Regions from separate parts of the Homo sapiens genome. Here all the other regions are reported to be linked to region 4. The links are microRNA targets in miRTarBase. Many come from high-throughput screens and were not tested one by one. Region 4 holds a microRNA gene; each other region holds the end of a gene's coding sequence.
The links. The annotated mature microRNA hsa-miR-6887-3p reads UCCCCUCCACUUUCCUCCUAG and lies in region 4 at 2,823-2,843, shown strand. An mRNA with a match to its seed (bases 2 to 7 or 8) in the 3' UTR can be bound and repressed. Matches are read on the target gene's strand: a 7mer-m8 pairs with bases 2 to 8, a 7mer-A1 pairs with bases 2 to 7 and ends in A, and an 8mer does both.

Region 1: miRTarBase lists ACTN2 as a target of hsa-miR-6887-3p. Seed matches in the 3' UTR shown: 7mer-A1 at 503-509.
Region 2: miRTarBase lists TOMM22 as a target of hsa-miR-6887-3p. Seed matches in the 3' UTR shown: 7mer-m8 at 2,641-2,647.
Region 3: miRTarBase lists KCNJ10 as a target of hsa-miR-6887-3p. Seed matches in the 3' UTR shown: 7mer-m8 at 966-972 and 8mer at 858-865.
Region 5: miRTarBase lists SLC35A2 as a target of hsa-miR-6887-3p. The part of its 3' UTR that is shown has no 7-base or 8-base seed match.

Annotation. Positions count from the first base shown.
Region 1 is chr1:236,762,222-236,766,337 of GRCh38, forward strand. ACTN2 (actinin alpha 2) reads left to right here. Exons shown (of 21, transcript NM_001103.4): 21 at 240-2,410. The coding sequence ends at 398. Among named protein-coding and RNA genes, the nearest start is that of MTR, 31 kb to the right of the region's middle.
Region 2 is chr22:38,683,334-38,687,436 of GRCh38, reverse strand. It overlaps TOMM22 (translocase of outer mitochondrial membrane 22), which reads right to left. Exons shown (of 4, transcript NM_020243.5): 4 at 2,016-3,670. The coding sequence ends at 3,596. It overlaps JOSD1 (Josephin domain containing 1), which reads left to right. Exons shown (of 5, transcript NM_001360236.2): 5 at 1-1,894. Among named protein-coding and RNA genes, the nearest start is that of TOMM22, 3.4 kb to the right of the region's middle.
Region 3 is chr1:160,037,503-160,041,602 of GRCh38, forward strand. KCNJ10 (potassium inwardly rectifying channel subfamily J member 10) reads right to left here. Exons shown (of 2, transcript NM_002241.5): 2 at 1-4,100. The coding sequence ends at 3,891. Among named protein-coding and RNA genes, the nearest start is that of PIGM, 7.6 kb to the left of the region's middle.
Region 4 is chr19:35,119,922-35,124,038 of GRCh38, forward strand. MIR6887 (microRNA 6887) reads left to right here and starts at 2,779; the gene lies at 2,779-2,843. FXYD3 (FXYD domain containing ion transport regulator 3) reads left to right here. Exons shown (of 9, transcript NM_005971.4): 4 at 1,157-1,189; 5 at 1,301-1,324; 6 at 2,844-2,918; 7 at 2,997-3,033; 8 at 3,350-3,387; 9 at 3,520-4,117. The coding sequence ends at 3,536. RefSeq lists enhancers at 2,336-3,225, 3,226-4,113.
Region 5 is chrX:48,899,622-48,903,721 of GRCh38, forward strand. SLC35A2 (solute carrier family 35 member A2) reads right to left here. Exons shown (of 5, transcript NM_005660.3): 5 at 3,562-3,844. The coding sequence ends at 3,817. It overlaps PQBP1 (polyglutamine binding protein 1), which reads left to right. Exons shown (of 7, transcript NM_001032382.2): 3 at 1,569-1,680; 4 at 2,309-2,421; 5 at 2,612-2,896; 6 at 3,111-3,174; 7 at 3,307-3,522. The coding sequence ends at 3,463. Among named protein-coding and RNA genes, the nearest start is that of PQBP1, 3.7 kb to the left of the region's middle.

The sequences.
Region 1 (4,116 bases), not on the chromosome of region 4:
TGCTCCATTTGCCTTTATGAAGCATATCACCCTTCCTGCTGGCCAGGCCGCTTCTAGATACGCTCCTACAAGTAAAACTTGGCTTTCTGTTGGTTGTCTGGTACTACTATGCCAATAGACTCCCTATTCTTTAGTCCTTTTAAAAAATTAAACAGATGCAAGAAATATGTAAGTATTAAGACTGTTTATGTTGTGGTGTTTCTGCAACTGACTGCAAACACGTGTGTATTTTTTCCCAGCCATACATCCTGGCGGAGGAGCTGCGTCGGGAGCTGCCCCCGGATCAGGCCCAGTACTGCATCAAGAGGATGCCCGCCTACTCGGGCCCAGGCAGTGTGCCTGGTGCACTGGATTACGCTGCGTTCTCTTCCGCACTCTACGGGGAGAGCGATCTGTGATGCTGAGCTTCTGTAATCACTCATCCCATCAGAATGCAATAAAAGCGGAAGTCACAGTTTGTTTCCTGGAAACTTTGACAAGCTTTATTAAGTTGAGAGAGAGAGAGGGGAAAAAAAAAAGCCTTTCGTAGTTCAGTAATTGCCAGCAATATAACACGGCTAAAATGAAGTTTTTACAGTATATGACATAGTGCGCTTCATAAATAGGTTTATTTCTGAGTTTTTAGCAAAATGTAATGAAATATCAGGTTGATTTCTTTGATTAAACAGAACAAATTACTTGAGTAATAGGAAATTAGGAGGATCTAGGGACAGAAGGAAAGTGAAAAATGTGAAAATACAAAATACCCAAGATTTAAGACCGGGGGGAAAAAACCACAAATTGGTAAATAAAGGTTTGCTATTTGTAAAAAATTTCATTTATCTCTAATATGCTTATGTGATTGCCCCTAGGGGAGTATATTTGGGATTCTAATGTTTTATTTTCATGCTTATCCAAAGATTACTATTGTATCTTCAAATGAATTTAATATTGTGAGATGGAACTGCCGGGGATTAAAAAGACTACCCAAAAGATTTTTGGCACTTACAATTTTTAAAATAGTTTATGTCATCTCTTCATTATTTAGGGCTGGATGGTCAACTCAGTCAGTGATTTTTTGATGCTTCTCTTATCCTCCAGAATAGAGACCTAAGGACACGTGGAAGTCAGTTTAATTGCCAGAGAGAAGGATGCAATCACTAGGTAAAATGAGGTTTTTAGGATTATTTATTGATTCCAGGTTCCCATGCTTTTTGTTAGAGCTTATTAGTACAGGTTCTCAAGAGATGACCACATAAAAGTGCTCTGTTTATAAATAAGCAGGTTTCTGTAGTACTGACTGGTTCATCACAAGGCAAGTCAGAAACCAGTATCCTTCTAGCTCTCCAGTCAGGACTTCCTTATGCCTCTAGTTTTATGACCGGTTAAGGAGAAGCCAGAGTTAGAGTAGGAGAGGACTAATTCTCAGCAGCAGTGGAGGTGAGTTCTTTCTTTTGCGGAAGCTTTACATATGTTTTGTGTAGTAGGAATAACTAGATATTTTAGCTAGTGTGCGGTGTGTGTTCACCCCTGGGATTGGACAGTGTATCCTAACAAGTCCCATGTCTGGTTCTGTGTCTAAAGGCCTGCTCCATGACACAGGATGCTACATGCACTCCTGCTAGCACATCTTGATCTGTTGAATGTTCATTCTTTCTTTTTGCTCATACTGCTGTAGGCTATAATTCCCCCCTGTTTTTCCATCTTGTTGACAGCTTGTAGAGAATAAAGCAGGAATTCTTTTTATATCTGAGTCCTTAATGATCAGGAAATGGATTACAAACAAACAAAAACAGTTGCAAACAGCAATTAAAGCATTACTAGAGAAGCAGTAACATGTCTGTTACCTACAGTCTGTTTGCTCAGATTTTTATAGATTTCCACCAACAGCTGGAAATGTAATATTTCCATTCCAAGCTGTCTGACAGCTTGACTCTTCTTCCTACACTGGGCCATTTAGAACCTTCAACCTTTATGAATTTCACTTAATTTGCTTCATTATTAAGTAATTGGTAGTTTCCAGATTCCTGAAATATTTGAATCCTTGAGTTTAATGCCAAACACTTTTGGGGTGGTTTAGATGAACTCTGACTCTATTTTATTTCAAGTAGGTGCTATATCCCGGCCATAAACCCCTATAGAAAAGCCAGAAAGTTGTGCTTCCTTTGAGGCTATTAGGGGGCTCTGTGGTGTTTTAGGATGGGTGTGGGTAACTCATCTACCTAAACTTTTAATTTCTTTACAACATTCAGCAAGAGAGGGGGTCAGTAGTCTCTATCTGCTAATAAATGAAGAAAGGAAGTAAACTCTGAAAAATAATAAACATGTTTATACTCTCATTTTAGGTATTATTTTTATTTCTGAAGCTGGATGCTCAAAAATTAAAACGTTTATAAGTTTCTAAATTAAACTTAATTTATAAAAGAAAAAAGAATCCCTATTTTTGTTATTTCAAAAAATAACCATTACTTTGGTTAACTACAAACAAACTTCCTCACTTAAAGGTTCCATGAGAATTAAAAACAGTCATTGGGTTAGTATTTGCCTCCCTTAAAGAATTAGAGACAGGCTTACTGGGTAGAGGGTGAACATAAGATGGAGAATTAACAATGAACCATTTAGAAGTGAATGATGGATGGCCCGGGGCATGGTGGCACACACCTGTAATCCCAGTACTTTGAGAGGCCAAGGTGGGCGGATCACTTGAGATCAGGAGTTCAAGACCAGCCTGGCCAACATGGCAAAAACCCATGTCTACTAAAAATACAAAAATTAGCCGGGTTTGGTTGCATGCCTGTAATCCCAGCTACTCAGCAGCTAAGGCAGGAGAATCACTTGAACCCAAGAGGTGGAGATTGCAGTGAGCCGAGATGGAGCCATTGCACTACCAGCCTGGGCAACAAGAGTGAAACTCCATCTCAAAAAAAAAAAAAAAAAAAAAAAAATCAGTGATGAATAGATTAGGAAGGAATTTTTAACCAAGAGATCACTTCAGAATCCTCAGTAAATATTTTCTAAAATGTATGCATACTCAGCCCTAATCCCAGAGTCTCAAGCTGTGAAGGTCTAGGTAAGACTTGGACATCTGCAGTTTTTTAAAACTCCATGGAATTTCTAATAACCCCCCATGAGAACCCGTGGATTAGAGGCAAAGGAAAGGTCATTAAGAATCAAGAGTCTAAAACGGCCAAGCGTGGTGGCTCACGCCTGTAATCCCAGCATGTTGGGAGGCCAAGGCAGGCAGATCATGAGGTCAAGAGATCGAGACCATCCTGGCCAACATGGTGAAACCCCGTCTCTACTGAAAATTCAAAAATTAGCCGGATTTGATGGTGTGCGTCTGTAGTCCCAGCTACTCGGGAGGCTGAGGCAGGAGAATCGTTTGAACCTGGGAGGTGGAGTTTGCAGTGAGCTGAGATAGTGCCATTGCACTCCAGCCTGGGCAACAGAGCAAGACTCCATCTCAAAAAAAAAAAAAAAGAAAAAAAGTCTAATAAAATGATTAGAGAAGACCTTACTGGCAAGGTTAATAGTTGAGCAATACAAATGGCCAGGCAAACCCTTGTGCCATCTGGTTGGTAATACAGAAATGCTTGACATAACTGAGTTTTAAATTAGAGCATTTGGCTTGGTATTCATTCCTGCTGTATACCAGATTCATCTATGTTCATGGAAATAAGCTGGAAATGAGCTCTTTACAGGCTTCATATGAAAGGAAACAAATCTAAGTGATACGGAGTCAGAAACATGTATTTTCAGAAGTTGCTAGTTGTTACCAGGCTGACAAAGATTCACCCACAGCTTCCCTGGATTATTTGACAAGAAGACACTGAGTTCCCACTGTGTCCTTGAGCTCTTTCGGGTTCCCTGGAGCCTACACAATAATTATACTGCTCTGAGACATTTTCATATTTCAGATGGAGTCAGCAGAGAAGACAGCGTCGTTTTTCCTTTTTAGATTCATTAATTAATAACTCAATCCTTAAGCAACTGACAGACCGTTATTCTTTTTAAGGTGCTAGGAGTTGCGATTTGTCAGTGACCCCTGGCCATGAATTCCCTCTGGGATTTAAGTCTTTTAGGAGTTACCTCCCCAGCAGTGCAGACCTCCTTGTTGTAAAATGGATGGAATGTCTG
Region 2 (4,103 bases), not on the chromosome of region 4:
TCTCTCAGGAAACCATGTCCAAAACCCTAGCAGCGGTACAGCATGCTGTCTCCAACCCTTATCCCCAGGTTTAAGGGTGGTTTATGGCCATACGTGGAGGTTTTTTGTTGTTGTTTTTGAGACTGAGTTTCACTCTTGTTGCCCAGGCTGGAGTGCAATGGCACCATCTCGGCTCACTGCAACCTCCACCTCCTGGTTCAAGCGATTCTCAGGCCTCAGCTTCCCAAGTAGTTGGGATTACAGGCGCCTGCCACCACACCTGGCTAATTTTGTATTTTTAGTAGAGATGGGGTTTCTCCATGTTGGTCAGGCTGGTCTCAAACTCCCGACCTCAAGTGATCTGCCCGCCTTGGCCTCCCAAAGTGCTGGGATTACAGGCGTGAGCCACCGCACCCGGCAGAGTTTTATAATGAAAAATTAACTAATATTCTAGTATGAAGTGAGGAGGATACTGAACAGGATGTGGCTAAAGCCAACCTGGGACAGCCATGGGGTGGCTTGGTTTCTTCACTCCAGTGTTGTCCCTACCATTTCGCAGCATTGATTTAGGAGGCTCTGGGACAAAAGAGAAGCCAAAGAGCAGTTTTCCCAGTTCACTCACTCTGGCAAAATCAGGAAAAAAAAGTCTGCTTTTGACATCAAATTCCACTAATTTGGGGCAGCGTTGGGTGAGGAAAGTATTGTGAAGACAGGCTTCTTGGAGTAGGGGCAGCCACAATTCAGTAGACACTCTAGGCTCGGAGGCTGCCACTGTAGTTGCCAAGCTCAGGTTGGGTGGTTCTGTGCTGTATGGATGGAATAGGACCTGGGCTGGTCATCTTCATGTCGTTTCCTCTCTGTATCAATGGAAGTTCAACCCGCCCCTACCTCTTCAGATAGTTGTAGGCCACTTTTCTCTTGTAACTTTGGAAAACAAAAGAGGAGAAATAAGTATCATACCATATGCGTGTCTCCAAAGTGGATGTGGTTGCCTCAAGGCAGGTGGCAGGCAGGGGTGACCTGCTGGCCCTCAGATCAATGGTCGTGGCAGGTCTGAGAGCTGTCCCACTGGCCAGACTTCTCTCCAGCAGCAAAGCCAGCCTGGGGCTTGCATGTTGATCCTGAGCAAGCTTAACGGGGTGAAGCTGGGCTTTCTCCCCCCTGTGACTGGAGTGCATGTTGACACCAGCACTTTTTCTGCACATGTATCTTCAATCCAACAAGGCCGTTTTTTTAATGCTGAGTAACAGGCCACCAAGCGGCTACTGCGTTATATCTTCTCAGCAACTGGCCGCAGTCTCTTCTGCACCATTTTCTACACCAGACCTGCTTGGCACCACAGGGAGCTCTTTTCCTGCCCTGCACAATGACATTCCAACCACCACCAGCCAGACATTACAGCCAACCTTGCTGATTGTCACAAGCAGGACCTTGGGGCCACTGGCACTGTCAGATAGTAAGCCATTTCTTGGGTAGAGGAGGAAACTCCTCTCCACAAATCCACTTGGGCCTGTGCAAATGGCACTTGAAAGAGTCCCCATGCACTTGGAGTCCATGAGCCAATGGGATATGCAAAGACGCTTAAACATTTCAGGGCTGGTTTCTCTGTTCATATCCAATTCTGGTGCTTAGGAACAGGGACCCATGCTGATGCCCAAGGGCAAAAAGCCCCACTTCCTTTAAGGAAGTGAACAGGCCTGACCCTGATGCCCAATAACGGGCAACCCTAGGCTTTTTGTTTTTCTTGCTTTTATTCCTTTTTGTTGTTGGCCTTGTGCTGCGTTTGTTTACAAAAGATGTATTTTGTTTAACCAAATATTAAAAATGGAAAACTCCATATATGTCTCCTTGTCTGCCTGAATTCTATAATTGTGTAAAGAAAAATAAACTTTAGTATGACGCTGTTTTAAAAGGAGTTCATTGCCAGCGTAAGTCATCTTTTAGAGACATATCATTCTTTGATTAACTCTTTCACCTGAGAAATCCAGACAAAATAGTCACTGAAATGGGATTTGGTTCAAAAGATGTCTCTAAGACATTTTTCAGTCTATTTTAATTTATAAAAACTAATCTTGACAATTTGAAGAATCCACCTAAGTACAAGTTTGTACCACACTGGTGACTAGTGTTTTTCCCTAGTTAACAAGTGAAAGATCATGTATACCCAGCGGGCCTGGGCCCAGCCCCACCATCCCGAGCGCACAGCAGCAGTGTTCTGTAGCTGGACTGCCTGGATTTGAATCCAGGTCTAGCACTTAACTCTGCAGCCTTGAGCAATTACCTTTCTGTGGCTGTTTCCTCTTCTGTAAAATGGGAACAGTACCACCTAGATTGTAGTGTTGGTTGATCTGATAAACACACAAAAGGCTTACTCTGGCTGGGCGTGGTGGGTGACGCCTATAATCCCAGCACTTTGAGGGGCCAGAGGCGGGTGGATGGCTAGAACTCAGGAGTTCAAGACTATCTGGGGCAACAAGGCGAAACCCTGACTCTACCAAAAATAAAAGAAACTAGCTGGGCACGGTGGCGTGTACCTGTAGTCTTAGCTACCCAGGAGGCCAAGTTGGAGGGGAGGTAAGAGGTTGCAGTGAACCCAAACGACACCACTGTACTCCAGTGAGACCTGATCTCAGGCAAAAAAAAAAAAAAAAAAATTCTGTCCCCCTCCCCTATTCCCCAGAAATCAGTACTATGTTATTCCCTACAAATACTTTATAATTACACAGTGTCATTATAGACTAAAGAAGTACATAGACCCAATCCTTTGTTTTAGGCTGATGGATCTCAAAGTGACTGCCTAAATTCAGGGCAAAGATTGCTATGAAGTACTTGGCTAAAAATGAATTTTCACTTGGAAACAATTTGGGCCTATGGCTGTTAAGATGGAGGTGCTGCTGGTTTAGGTGAGAAAATGTGAGGGGCAGTACATGTCTCTGACGTGGTCTCATTTCAAGGTACTTAGGATGACACTTTCAGTTGGAATCATTTTTAATATTTAAATACAAAAAGTGAGCACTGACTTCTCTTTTTTTAAACACACACACAGGTCTAACAGCCAAAATGTGCAGAGGAAATGAGCTCCTGCTGTCTTCCATAGTCCCCATTCTGTGGCTGAAGCTGCAGCCTGCCTCCCTCCTCTCATACATAGGGATTCATAGTGGCCACTTTACACTACAGGTGTAATGCATTTTGTCTGTTTCACATTGTGTGCATGTCCTGCCCCAACAACTCCATTCTTTAAAAAAAAAAAAAAAAAACAGTCGTTAATGGTCAGGGGCACATCCCTCCCACTGGCATCGGTTCCTACCCCACAAGGGGAAAGTGAGATCTTCCAGTTAGGAGCAATTTGGTGAAAGGAGTCGGGTGACCAGAGCTGGAATAACCATCTGCATGGCTGCACTCTGGTATCAGAGTGGAGACAGAAGTAAGGATAGTGTGGAGGGCACAGTTGCAAGTTGAGTCTTTCCATGAGACAATGTGGGGATAATTCTCCCCACCAGGTTTAGATAGATCAATGTGCCAAAGTTAAAAAAAAAAAAAAATCCAAATTATCAGCAGTTCAAACACTTGAATTTCAAACTTATCCCACTGAGACAGCTCAAACAGCAATAACAATCTAGATCTTTCCAGGAAGTGAGGGTAGAGCCCCTGGCATTCCTCCTGAGAGCCCTGTGTTAGGTCCTAGAAGTATCTGGAAAAGAAAAGGAGGGGTGTAAGGCATCATACAGGCCTAGAGAGCTTATTCTCACCATACCTGATGGGGCCAACGTCTACAAAAATAATACTGAAAGCACAGTCAGACAACTAAAAGAGCATGGGCCCGATCCCAATCCCCACCCACACATTAACTGTTGGTCAACTCAGGTGCTACAACAGGAGCCCTCAACCCCTGGGCTGTGGACTGGCACTGGCCCATGGCCTGTTAGGAGCTGAGCCACACAGCAGTAGATCAGCAGCAGGCAAGTGAGAGAAGCTTCATCTGTGTTTACTGCTGTTCACCATCGCTCACATTACTGCCTGAGCTCCACCTCCTGTCAGATCAGCAGCAGTGTTAGATTCTCATAGGAACACAAACCCTTGTGAACAGTGCATGCGAGGGATCTAGGTTGCAAGCTCCTTATGAA
Region 3 (4,100 bases), not on the chromosome of region 4:
TATTTTTAACAGACAAAAACAAAACAAATCTTACACACCTTTTTTTTCCTAGATAAATTTGACCTGGTTTAGTCTTTAGTGCAATGAATGGAAAAAACATCCCTAAATACTTCTGCATCAGTAGAGTTGGCCATTACTGAGCCTGGAGACCCATGCTAACTTTCCAGCAAAGGTAGTGTGTTACTGTACAAGTGAACTAGGTTAGCTAGCAAGAATAAAGGACCAGGGCAGCAGCCATGGAGAGGGCACAGTGTCCTGGACTTGTAGCAATAGTATAACTGGCTTTCTTTCTCTGCTCAGACCTTATAGGGAAACTACTGGATGATTTTATTAGGCTGACAGGGGTTGGGGGAATAATGGGGTGAAGCACATTGCAGAGATTTCGGAAGCCTCTCATGGAACTTCACCATCCCCTAGAGCAGCTGGTAACCCCACTCCTCATTTTCATTCAGAAGCATCAAAACCAAAGCATCACCCTCCATGCCCAAATGCCAGGATTGGAACTCTTCTGGAATCCATGGCTTTCTCTTTGGGCTGCTTGCAGCCACACAAAAGGCTGGGCCTTGACCTTGGGAGATCTTCAGCCTAACAGCTATTAGTCCTGGCATTTGGATTCCAGGGTTGAGGCTTCCCATTAGTGCCTCCCATACACCAAAGTGTTCAGCTCCTGAGTTTGATTTCAGGGGCTAGAGCAATAGCAGCTCCCACCCCTGTGGAAGACGGAAATACAGTGTACTTCATGAAAGGGAAACAAAATGGTGCTTTATTTTATTTTATTTATTTTAAAAAGGCGCTACAGTGGCAGGACGCTGCTGGGGATGGGGACACACAGTGTAAGTGGTAGATTTTCCAAGACTTCCCCTCCCTATTGTCCTCCGAGTTCCTCTCTTCCTGGTCCTATCAGTAGCATAGGATTCAACAAAAGCCTTCATGAATGCCTCTTTATTTCTGAAAAGGAACTTCTACCCCTCCCTTTCCCATTTCCAGACTTGAAATCCTTCATCAGCTATCTCACTTCCATGTTGAAACCAGGACCACTGATTGTAAGTCTGAAAATCTGGGTGTCCTACCCCATAACCAGGCCAAGATATCTGCCCCCAATGCTAAAGTCTCTGAATATTTCCTTTCTGTACATTCAATATATTTGGGCATATATACATCTATATACATCTTTCTATATATATATTATCTCTGTTTCTTTCTTCTTAGATAAACCTTTCATATATGTCATATCCTAATTTCCCAAGCCTCCCCACTTCTTGTTTGCGAGCCTAAGCAAGACTCAAGAGTTTCATTGATTTCACTAGGTCCCTCAGCATCATTTCTTTCTCATCTTCTCACCCCAGGTATCTTCCCCCATCAGTTGTTTCGCCCGTCTTCTGAAATCTCCCCTTTTTACACCTGTGCCTACCGAAATCTCCCCTTTTTACAACTGTGCCTACTACTCTGCTGATATTCCAAGTCCACAGTTGGTATGGGGGCCCATTTCTCACCAGACCTGGCTGCTTCTAAAGCTCGGCCTATTGCCTAAAAGAGGATTTCAGGTCAGAGGAGACAGACTATAGTCTAAAGAACCATTTAGAGTTAAGGTAGGGGGTAGTTGTTCCCTGTAGGGGGCTTGTGGGAGAAGATGCCAGATCGCATTAATAGGACAGTGTGATTTAAAGTGCAACTTAAAGCAAAGCCTGGGTAATAATGGAGGAGATTCCAAAAGGGTAAGTCAGAAAATGTTTTCTTCTCACTGTTTCATCCAAGAGTCTAGAGGCTTGAGTCTGGGGGCTTAGAATAGACAGCAGGGGAATGGGAAGAAAGCATAGCATGGCCAAATAAACCAGATGGAGGTTAACTTGGCAATGGATAGGAAGGTATAGACACACACACACACACACACACACACACACACACACACACACACACACACAGCAGTACATCTTGTCCCTACACACTGAAAGAAATAAGGTAAGTCTAATGTTGAATAAAGTTGAGAACGCAGAAGCTGGCTCTTGGCCTTCTGTTCTCTGTTTCAGATTTTTCAAGTTTTTGTGGTTCTTGTTTTTATGCCAACTAGAAGGTAATGGTGGGGTTTACTGTAGATGGACACCGAAGGGTCTTTGTTTTCAAGATATAGTTAGTTGAGTTCGAGGAGAGATCAATATAACAAGACCTTGTGCAATTATAGTTGGTGGTGATCATGGGTCTAGCCTCAAAATTTTGTGTTTCTCTGCAAGGCTCTGTACATAGATGCATGTATATATTCTGTAGCTTGTAACAATTGGCTGAGACCACCTTAAACTGCAACTTGACTTATAGTGGGACTATGCAGTACCACTATGTGAGGCTTCCTTGGTACCAAAGTGAGACCAGAAAGCACTCTAGGGATTTGGGGCTTTGGATAAAGCTCTGGTGCCTATATGCCCTTCCCTGACCCTTACCACAGACCCCACCAGGGAACAAGGAATAGGCTGAGTTTGATCTCTTAAAGTCTACTTTTTAACTTGTCTGAAAATGGCCTCATGGCAGAGGAGAGTAGAGATGACACTGATTTCTTCATTTTATACCAAGTCTCAGGAATGGCTGAGGGAAGCCATGGTTATTTGATCAGAAGGTATAATTTCATTTCCTTCCAGCATTGCCTAATGAAATAGCTGGCACTTTTCAGAAGGGCACTGGGAGGTGTAACTGAGAATAGTGGCTGCCAGCCACAGAGTTCTGCTCCTGCCCAAACCTTAACAAAGCATCACCAATTCTCAGAGGCTCTGTACAGCAGTTTGGAAATCTGAGAATTTACCCATCCCTCATGGTGGGATTGTGTTAACTTTCTGGGGAATCTGTGCCCTGTGAATCTAGTTTTACTTGAGCATCCGTGTTAAGAGAGGAAGGCCCTTGCATTTTCCCTCCCTTCTCCCAAAGAGTTGGGGTTAAGGAAGAAGGATCTAGGCTGAGCAGGAAAGGAAGAAGAGAAGCCAGGTACAGTGTAATCTGGAATATTATTTTCAGACCTTTCCATGGGGCCTGGGTACTGGACTCTTTTCAAAGGAACATATTGGCTTGGGTCCTTCCATTCACAGGACACAGGGAAACAGATCTTCTCTGGGCTGCCTGGAAGATAGGTTTAAAGGTTTAGATAACAACTTGTGTTAGTCACTCCAAATTGAAGAGTTCAGAATCCAGGATAGATATGGGTGGTTATATGTTTATGTTTCTTGGGCCAACTCCAATTCTCTGAGAACAGAGGCTATGAGGGAACTGGGTATCCTGAGAGTGTTCACTTGAGAAACTACAGAGGGAAAACAGTGGCGACCATGGTTCTAGCTTATGGTCAGAAGTCACCAGCAGAAATCAAGCTTCACAGTGGCAAACCCTGGCTTCTTTCAACAGAGATTGGTAGAAACCCTAGGATATGTTGATATCAGATTCCTGTATTTCTGAAAGCACAGACCACAAAGTGACCATCAGAGAGAGTCTTGCCTTTGGGAACTTGCTAGATGGAAAGGTAACAGAGGGAGCTCCAGCCTCAAGTCACCAAACTTCATGGTGGTGGTGGGAGGTAGGGGGCAGTCTATCCTTCCAACCACATGGTCCTCCTAATGTGAGTATCCAAGCATGGCTGAGGCCTTCTAAGCCACTTCAGCCTAATCCCACTCTTTCCCCCATCCTGGCTTAAGGGAGGTATGTGTATTGGGGCAGAAGCTGGGGAAGTGGAAAGGGGACAGTGGGAGGCGAACCTGGACTCCAGTTGGCCTAAGCTACCAACAGGCCACTGGGTTAAAGAAGAGGGAGTGGAGGATGGGTGCTTCGGGGGATCTCCAGTAAACCCGGGTAGTATTCCTTACCAGGGCATTGGAAGAGAGGAAAAGAGACCAGAGGAATGGGGGAGTGGGAACAGGTCATCAGACATTGCTGATGCGCACACTAAGGGCACTGCCCTCCTTCTCAGCTTGCTCCCTTAATGACTCCTCCAACTTGAGCTTTTCAGGGTCTCCGTAGCGTACAGTGCTGTCACGGAGGCCACTAGGAGAGGCCACTTTCACAACTTGGTCAAAAAGGCTAAAGTCAGCTATGTATTTACCACTGGCTGACAGTGAGATGGCAGGTGTGAA
Region 4 (4,117 bases):
AGCCTTCCAAAGTGCTGGGATTACAGGCATGAGCCACACTGCACTGGCCTTGATTGACTATTAAACAGAAATAACGGAAGCTAGAGAAGATGATGAAATGACACCTTCAAAGCACTGAAAGAAGATAACTGCCCTGCCAGTTCTCTAAAAACTTCAAGTAGAAGGCTCAGCTCAGTGCGACTGCATCTTTAACTTCCAAACACTTTTCCCTTTTTTCTTTTCTTTTTTTTTTTTCGGAGACAGAGTCTCGCTCTGTTGCCCAGGCTGGAGTGCAGTGGCATGATCTCGGCTCACTGCAACCTCCACCTCCCAGGTTCAAGCGACTCTCCTGCCTCAGCCTCCCAAGTAGCTGGCATTACAGGCGTGTGCTGCCATGCCTGGCTAACTTTTGTATTTTTAGAAGAGACAAGGTTTCACCATATTGGCCAGGCTGGTCTCGAACTCCTGACCTCAAGTGATCCTCCTGCCTCGGCCTTCCAAAGTTTTGGGATTACAGGCCTAAGCCACTGTGCCCAGCCCGCTTTTTACTTTTTCACTGCAGCCTTGACCTCCCAGGCTCAAGAGATCCTTCCACGTCAGCCTCCCAAAGCTCTGGGATTACAGGCACACTTTTTGTCCATTACATAGGGCAAGACCAGTATTCCCTGCAGGGTAGTGATCTAAAATTACATTTTCAATAAAGTCTATTTAAGTGTATAATAGTGAGTCATTTTCAATGATGTGCAAACACCAGACCAGGTGGGTGTGGACATGGTGGAAGCGGGAGGATGGGCTTTGAGCATGATTGGACTTGGGGAAACAGGAATCTGGGAACTGAAACCATCTGTCGTCTTGACCAGAAAAGTCCCCCGCTGCTGCAGGAGGCATGGATTAACCACGTGTCTGGAAACATGAGACCAAATAGTGGCTAAAAACCTCCTAGATTAGAACCCATTTCAGGTGGCAGAATGCTGGCGTGACTCGGAGGTGTGGGGCTGAGTGGGCGAGTCCACATTTCCTCGTTGGGATATGAGGGGATGAGGTGGCTGCTCAGTGACAGGACCCCTGTCCCGCAGGAGACCCTTTCCCAAGGCCCCTGAAACTCCCCAGGCCCTGCCCAAAGGCTTGGCTGAGGCCGGCATCACCATCTCCCCTCCTTCCCCTCTTCTCCCACTAGGCTTTCCTGTCCTGGACGCCAATGACCTAGAAGGTGAGTCAGACTGGACTCTCACCCGTCACACCCCCAAATTCTCCCCTGGGTGGGGAAGGCCTGCATCCTGGCTGTAATCCTGGATTCATGATCTTTTTTCTTTCCTTGCAGATAAAAACAGTCCTTTCTACTATGGTGAGAGCCCGTGCCCCCTTTCCCCTCCCCACAACCCCACATACTGCTTGGTGCCAAGGGTTCCCATACAGGGTTGGGGCCTGACGTGAGCATCACAGGACAAAGATACGAAGGGACTAGGATGGGGTTACTGAATATGCCACACAGTGGATTAAAGGAACTAGAGGCAGCAACCTGGCCTTTGGGAAGGTTCTATTCCAGCAAGATAGACACACGCAGGAGGTGAGGACAGTTTGCAAGAAGCCATTGGTTGGTTCAGATCAACTGCTGGGAGAAGTGTTGACTTGAGAAAACTTCCTGGAGGTGGTGAGCTATTGGATCAAAACCCTCATCTGGCCTCCAGGTTCCAATGACCTGCTCCCTACTCCCCGCTCTGCCCTCACCTCTCCACGCTCCTCATTCCTTCTGCTCCAAGCCTCTCAGACACAGCAGACATACTGCCAGCCTCAGACCTCTGCACCTGCTGGTTCCTCTGCCTGGAACACTTCCTTCCACAGAACCACATGGCTCCCTCCCTTCCCTCTGCTCAAATGCAGCCCCCTGAGAGGCCTTCCCTGACAACTCCCTCTAAAAGAGCTGCCATCTGACTTTTTTTTTGTTTTAGAGACAGCGTCTCACACTGTTGCCCAAGCTGGAGTGCTGTGGTGTAATCATAGCTCACTGCAGCCTCAAACTCCTGGTCTCAAGCGATCCTCCTGCCTCAGCCTCCTGAATAGCTGGGACTGCAGGCATACACCACCATGCCTGGCTAATTTTTGTATACTTTGTAGAGATGGGTTCTCACTATGTTGCTCAAGCTGGTCTAGAACTCCTGAACTCCTGAAGTCCCAAAGCACTGGGATTATATTAGGTTGGTTCAAAAGTAATTGTGGTTTTTGCAACTGCTTTTAATGGCAAAAATGCAATTTTTTTTTTTTGAGGCAGAATTTTGCTCTTTCACCCAGAGTGTGACTGGCTGGAGTGCAATGGTGCAATCTTGGCTCACTGCAACCTCTGCCTCCCGGGTTCAAATGATTCTCCAGCCTCAGCCTGCTGAGTAGCTGGGATTACAGGCGCCTACCACCATGCCTGGCTAATTTTTGTATTTTTAGTAAAGACGGGGTTTCACCATGTTGGCCAGGCTGGTCTGGAACTCCTGACCTCAGGTGATCCGCCCACCTTGGCCTCCCAAAGTGCTGGGATATCAGGCGTGAGCCACCATGTCTAGCCAAAAACGCAATCACTTTTGCTCCAACCTAATAGGTGTCAGCCACTATGCCCAGCCCGCCCTCTGACTTTCCATCTCCCACCCCACTTATTTTTCTTCAAACCACTTATCTCTGCCTGACCCTGCACGACAGATCGTGTTTGCTGGTGTGTGAACCAGAATGTGAGCACCTGGGATTTTGTCTGTTTTCTTATGGCGGTGTCCCCAGCACCCTGTGCATCCTAGGTGCTCCATATATATTTGTCAAGAGAATGGGGGGACAGATGGAGAGGACACAGGCTGGCACTGAGGTCCCCTCCACTTTCCTCCTAGACTGGCACAGCCTCCAGGTTGGCGGGCTCATCTGCGCTGGGGTTCTGTGCGCCATGGGCATCATCATCGTCATGAGTGAGTGGAGGAGCTCGGGGGAGCAGGCGGGCCGGGGCTGGGGCTCCCCTCCCCTGACCACTCAGCTCTCCCCAACAGGTGCAAAATGCAAATGCAAGTTTGGCCAGAAGTCCGGGTAAGATACTGTTCCGGCATGCCCGCCTCAGGCTGACTGGACGCTTTTCAGGGTGAAAGGGCTAACTCTCCCAGCAGGAGAGGCCTCGGGGCTCTGCCCTTTAGAGTTCCTGCCGCTAAGATTTCCAGGTTTATTGTTTCTAGCTGGTAATCCCCAGGGGGCCCCAAATCCTGAAATGCTTTGGCCCCTGGGATTGCACAACCCCCCAAATGGAAAGGCAGCCAGGAAGACATGTCTGGGCAGGCTAAGAACCCTCTATCCGGAGGGAGAGGGCAAATGGGGGCGGACACCAATCTCACCACTTTTGTCTCCTTAGTCACCATCCAGGGGAGACTCCACCTCTCATCACCCCAGGTAAGATGGGGCAGCATGGGGCTCAGGGGAACACGGAAGTGGTGTGTGTGTGTGTGTGTATGTGTGTGTTTGCACACTGGAAAGAAAAGAACTCAATCCACCCTCACAAACGGACCCCATCACTTCCCGCAGGCTCAGCCCAAAGCTGATGAGGACAGACCAGCTGAAATTGGGTGGAGGACCGTTCTCTGTCCCCAGGTCCTGTCTCTGCACAGAAACTTGAACTCCAGGATGGAATTCTTCCTCCTCTGCTGGGACTCCTTTGCATGGCAGGGCCTCATCTCACCTCTCGCAAGAGGGTCTCTTTGTTCAATTTTTTTTAATCTAAAATGATTGTGCCTCTGCCCAAGCAGCCTGGAGACTTCCTATGTGTGCATTGGGGTGGGGCTTGGGGCACCATGAGAAGGTTGGCGTGCCCTGGAGGCTGACACAGAGGCTGGCACTGAGCCTGCTTGTTGGGAAAAGCCCACAGGCCTGTTCCCTTGTGGCTTGGGACATGGCACAGGCCCGCCCTCTGCCTCCTCAGCCATGGGAACCTCATATGCAATTTGGGATTTACTAGTAGCCAAAAGGAATGAAAGAGAGCTCTAACCAGATGGAACACTGGAACATTCCAGTGGACCCTGGACCATTCCAGGAAAACTGGGACATAGGATCGTCCCGCTATGATGGAAGTGTTCAGACAGTTTATAATAGTAAGCCCCTGTGACCCTCTCACTTACCCCGAGAC
Region 5 (4,100 bases), not on the chromosome of region 4:
CTGACCACCTAATGCCTATTTGGGGCCTACTGTATGCCAAGTTAAATCCCATGGATTACTCTATGGGGGTGATGACATAGTATCTAATAGGAAGTACTGCTAACCTCTACTGCTGTCTCCTGTGTGCCAAGCGTAGTTGCAGTGAGGATCTATCATTTAGGCCTACTGTGCTCTGGCTGCAAATCACACCTTATTATCAGTAATACTAAAAACTGGCATCTATTTGGGGCTATAGTGTGCCAGGCACTGGAAAATATATCTTCTCCTTATTGATAACTGACATCTATTACAAGCCTACTGTGTGCAAGGTATAGACCTTGTGGTTAATAAAATTGTCAATGATCCCAGGCCGGGCAGGGTGCCTCATGCCTGTAATCTCAGCGCTTTGGGAGGCGGAGGTGGACGGATCACGAGGTCAGGAGATCGAGACCATTCTGGCTAACAGGGTGAAACCCCATCTCTAATAAAAATACAAAAAACTTAGCCGGGCGTGGTGCCAGATGCCTGTAGTCCCAGCTACTCGGGAGGCTGAGGCAGGAGAATGGTGTGAACCCGGAAGGCGGAGCTTGCAGTGAGCCGAGATCATGCCACTGCACTCCAGCCTGGGCAACAGAGAAAGACTCCATCTCAAAAAAATAAAACTGGCAATGATCATTGATTTACTTTTTTTTTTTTTTTTTTTTTTTTTTTTTGAGAGAGTCTCGCTCTGTCACCTAGGCTGGAGTGCAGTGGTGCAGTCTTGGCCCACTGCAACCTCTGCCTCCCGGGTTCAAGCGATTCTCCTGCCTCAGCCTCCCGAGTAGCTAGGACCACAGGCGTGCTCCACTGTGCCTGGCTAATTTTTGTATTTTTTAGTAGAGATGGGGTTTCACCATGTTGGCCAGGCTGGATTTTCTTTTAAGCCTATTGAATGACCTGTGCCTATGGTATATATATTATTTATTATTTGTTTAGAGACAGGGTCTCACTCTGTTGCCCAGGCTGGAGTGCAGTGGCACGATAATAGCTCACTGCAAGCTCAAAGTCCTGGGCTCAAATGAGCCTCCTGCCTCAGCCTCCTGAGTAGTTGGGACTACAGACGTGTGCCACTGTGCCCAGCTAATTTTTTTTTTTTGTAGAGACAGGGGTCTCACTATGTTGACCAGGCTAGTCTCACAGACGGGTTTTCACCATCTTGGCCAGGCTGGTCTTGAACTCCTGACCTCGTGATCCACCCACTTTGGCCTCCTAAAGTGCTGGGATTACAGGCATGAGCCATCACGCCTGGCCAAGATGAGTAAATTTTTTGATGAATCCCTATCAACTCTGAAACCAGATAGCTTTGGCTAACAGTAGAACTCATCATCTGAACCCAGACACAGATTTAGGTAACCTTTTTTTGTAAACCTCCTAATATAGAGAGTTGGATTTGGAATGTGAAAGATACTTCATATTCTTCCCGGCACACACACACACGTGTCTTTTATGTGTGGCTTGTGTGAATGTGAGTGCGTGTCTCTAGGCTCTACATGTAGGATGAGGTCCCCTGGTCCTTATCTGCTCTCCTCATCCCCACCTTGTTCTACCAGAACCAGAGGAAGAGATCATTGCCGAGGACTATGACGATGATCCTGTGGACTACGAGGCCACCAGGTTGGAGGGCCTACCACCAAGCTGGTACAAGGTGTTCGACCCTTCCTGGTGAGCCTGGGTGAGGGGGAGCTAACTTCTGGCTTCACCCTTCCTGTGCTGACCTTGGTTGTGAGGTTTAGGGGGACACAAGGGAGGGAGCCTCGGGTGGAGGGTGTTGGCATTAGGTATCTGCAGGACTCAAGTTGCTGCCTGCTGGGGCCTGGCTCCTCTGGGGTTGGAAGACTGTCTTTTCTCTCTTTTTTGAAACGGAGTTTCACTCTTGTAGCCCGGGCTGGAGTGCAATGGTGTGATCTCGGCTTATGGCAACCTCCGCCTCGTGGGTTCAAGCGATTCTCCTGTCTCAGCCTCCCAGGTAGCTGGGATTACAGGTGCACACCACCACACCCAGCTAATTTTTGTATTTTTTGTAGAGATGGGGTTTCATCATATTGGTCAGGCTGGTCCCGAACTCCTGACCTCAGGTGATCCGCCTGCCTCGGCCTCCCAAAGTGCTGGGATTACAGGCATGAGCCACCACGCCCAGCTGACAGTGTTTTCTCTTCAGGAGAAGAGATTCTGGGGATCCTGCCTGTGGGGTCCTGACATGGGGCAGGTATAGGCAGAGACTGGGGAGACAAGAGTTGAGGATCCAAGGCAAGGACATCTGTGCTGACACTTCTTTCCTGCGGCCCCACAGCGGGCTCCCTTACTACTGGAATGCAGACACAGACCTTGTATCCTGGCTCTCCCCACATGACCCCAACTCCGTGGTTACCAAATCGGCCAAGAAGCTCAGAAGCAGTAATGCAGGTGAGTTGGCAGGTACAAGCGTGCCTTGAGTGATCTTAGCAGTTCTCACGGAGAGGCCAAGTAGAATGATAGTGGATCAGAGGGGCAGGTGAGACCAGGCGGGCCCAGCCTCAGGCAAGGGAGGTTGTTGAAGGCAGAGGCTGCTGGGTCCTGGGGTGGCAAGAGGTCACTTCAAGACTTGTGTCCCCAGATGCTGAAGAAAAGTTGGACCGGAGCCATGACAAGTCGGACAGGGGCCATGACAAGTCGGACCGCAGCCATGAGAAACTAGACAGGGGCCACGACAAGTCAGACCGGGGCCACGACAAGTCTGACAGGGATCGAGAGCGTGGCTATGACAAGGTAGACAGAGAGAGAGAGCGAGACAGGGAACGGGATCGGGACCGCGGGTATGACAAGGCAGACCGGGAAGAGGGCAAAGAACGGCGCCACCATCGCCGGGAGGAGCTGGCTCCCTATCCCAAGAGCAAGAAGGGTAAGCTGGGCAGAATGGGGCTCGGTGAGACCAACAAGGTGCAGGGTGCACTGCGTGAGGAAGCCTTCCCTCAAAAAGATGCCTGGACCTGGGGCTAGAGGAGGGTGCTGTGGTACATGGCAGCCAGGGGCTTCATTTCTTCTTGTGGGGTGGGGCTCAGTGATCAGGGGATCCTGGTGCCTCTATTGAAGACTTTGCCCTGCCACTTCCACAGCAGTAAGCCGAAAGGATGAAGAGTTAGACCCCATGGACCCTAGCTCATACTCAGACGCCCCCCGGTAAGTGACAACCCCTCTTGACTCAGTACGTGGACACCATCCTCCGGCCTCCTTCCTCCATTCCTCATTGGGACCAGGTGGGCTGTGTCCGCCACATCACCCATCCCCATCCCCTGACTCTTTCACCGGCAGGGGCACGTGGTCAACAGGACTCCCCAAGCGGAATGAGGCCAAGACTGGCGCTGACACCACAGCAGCTGGGCCCCTCTTCCAGCAGCGGCCGTATCCATCCCCAGGGGCTGTGCTCCGGGCCAATGCAGAGGCCTCCCGAACCAAGCAGCAGGATTGAAGCTTCGGCCTCCCTGGCCCTGGGTTAAAATAAAAGCTTTCTGGTGATCCTGCCCACCATACCTGAGTGCTTCCTTTGAGGCTGCCCAACCCAAGTCGGCAAGATACACAACACATTTTATTTGCAAAAACTCAGCTAAGAGATAGTGTGGAGCTGGCAGGGGCTGGGGGGCTGAGCTGAGGTGGGTCATGAGAGAGCTTAGTCATGTTGGCCCTGGGTGGGGCAGGGGTGGTGGGGACAGGGAGTCCAGTGTCTACCTCACTCTACCCCTAATACTGATCAGAGTTTGGTCCCAGCTGGGCCAAGGGCAAGAAGAGAGAACGAGGCCAGGCCAATGTCTTCAATCCCAGCGGCTAGGAACCCTTCACCTTGGTGAGCAACCTGTGGTGGGAATGGGGAGGAAAGAAAAACACAAAGCTGGGCTAGGCTGGCAGGCGGGTTTCCTGAGCAAGTGAGGGCGGCGGTGGTGAGGCTGGTAGTCCTGGGGTTAGTAATGGTGCCCACCTGGTCAGAAAGCTACACGTGGACTAAATAAATACAACATCTTTATTTGGCATTGGATATCCTGACATTTGTTCATTACAGTTCCTTAAAAAACAAACCAAAAAATCAGAACAAATTAATCAAAAATAAAGAT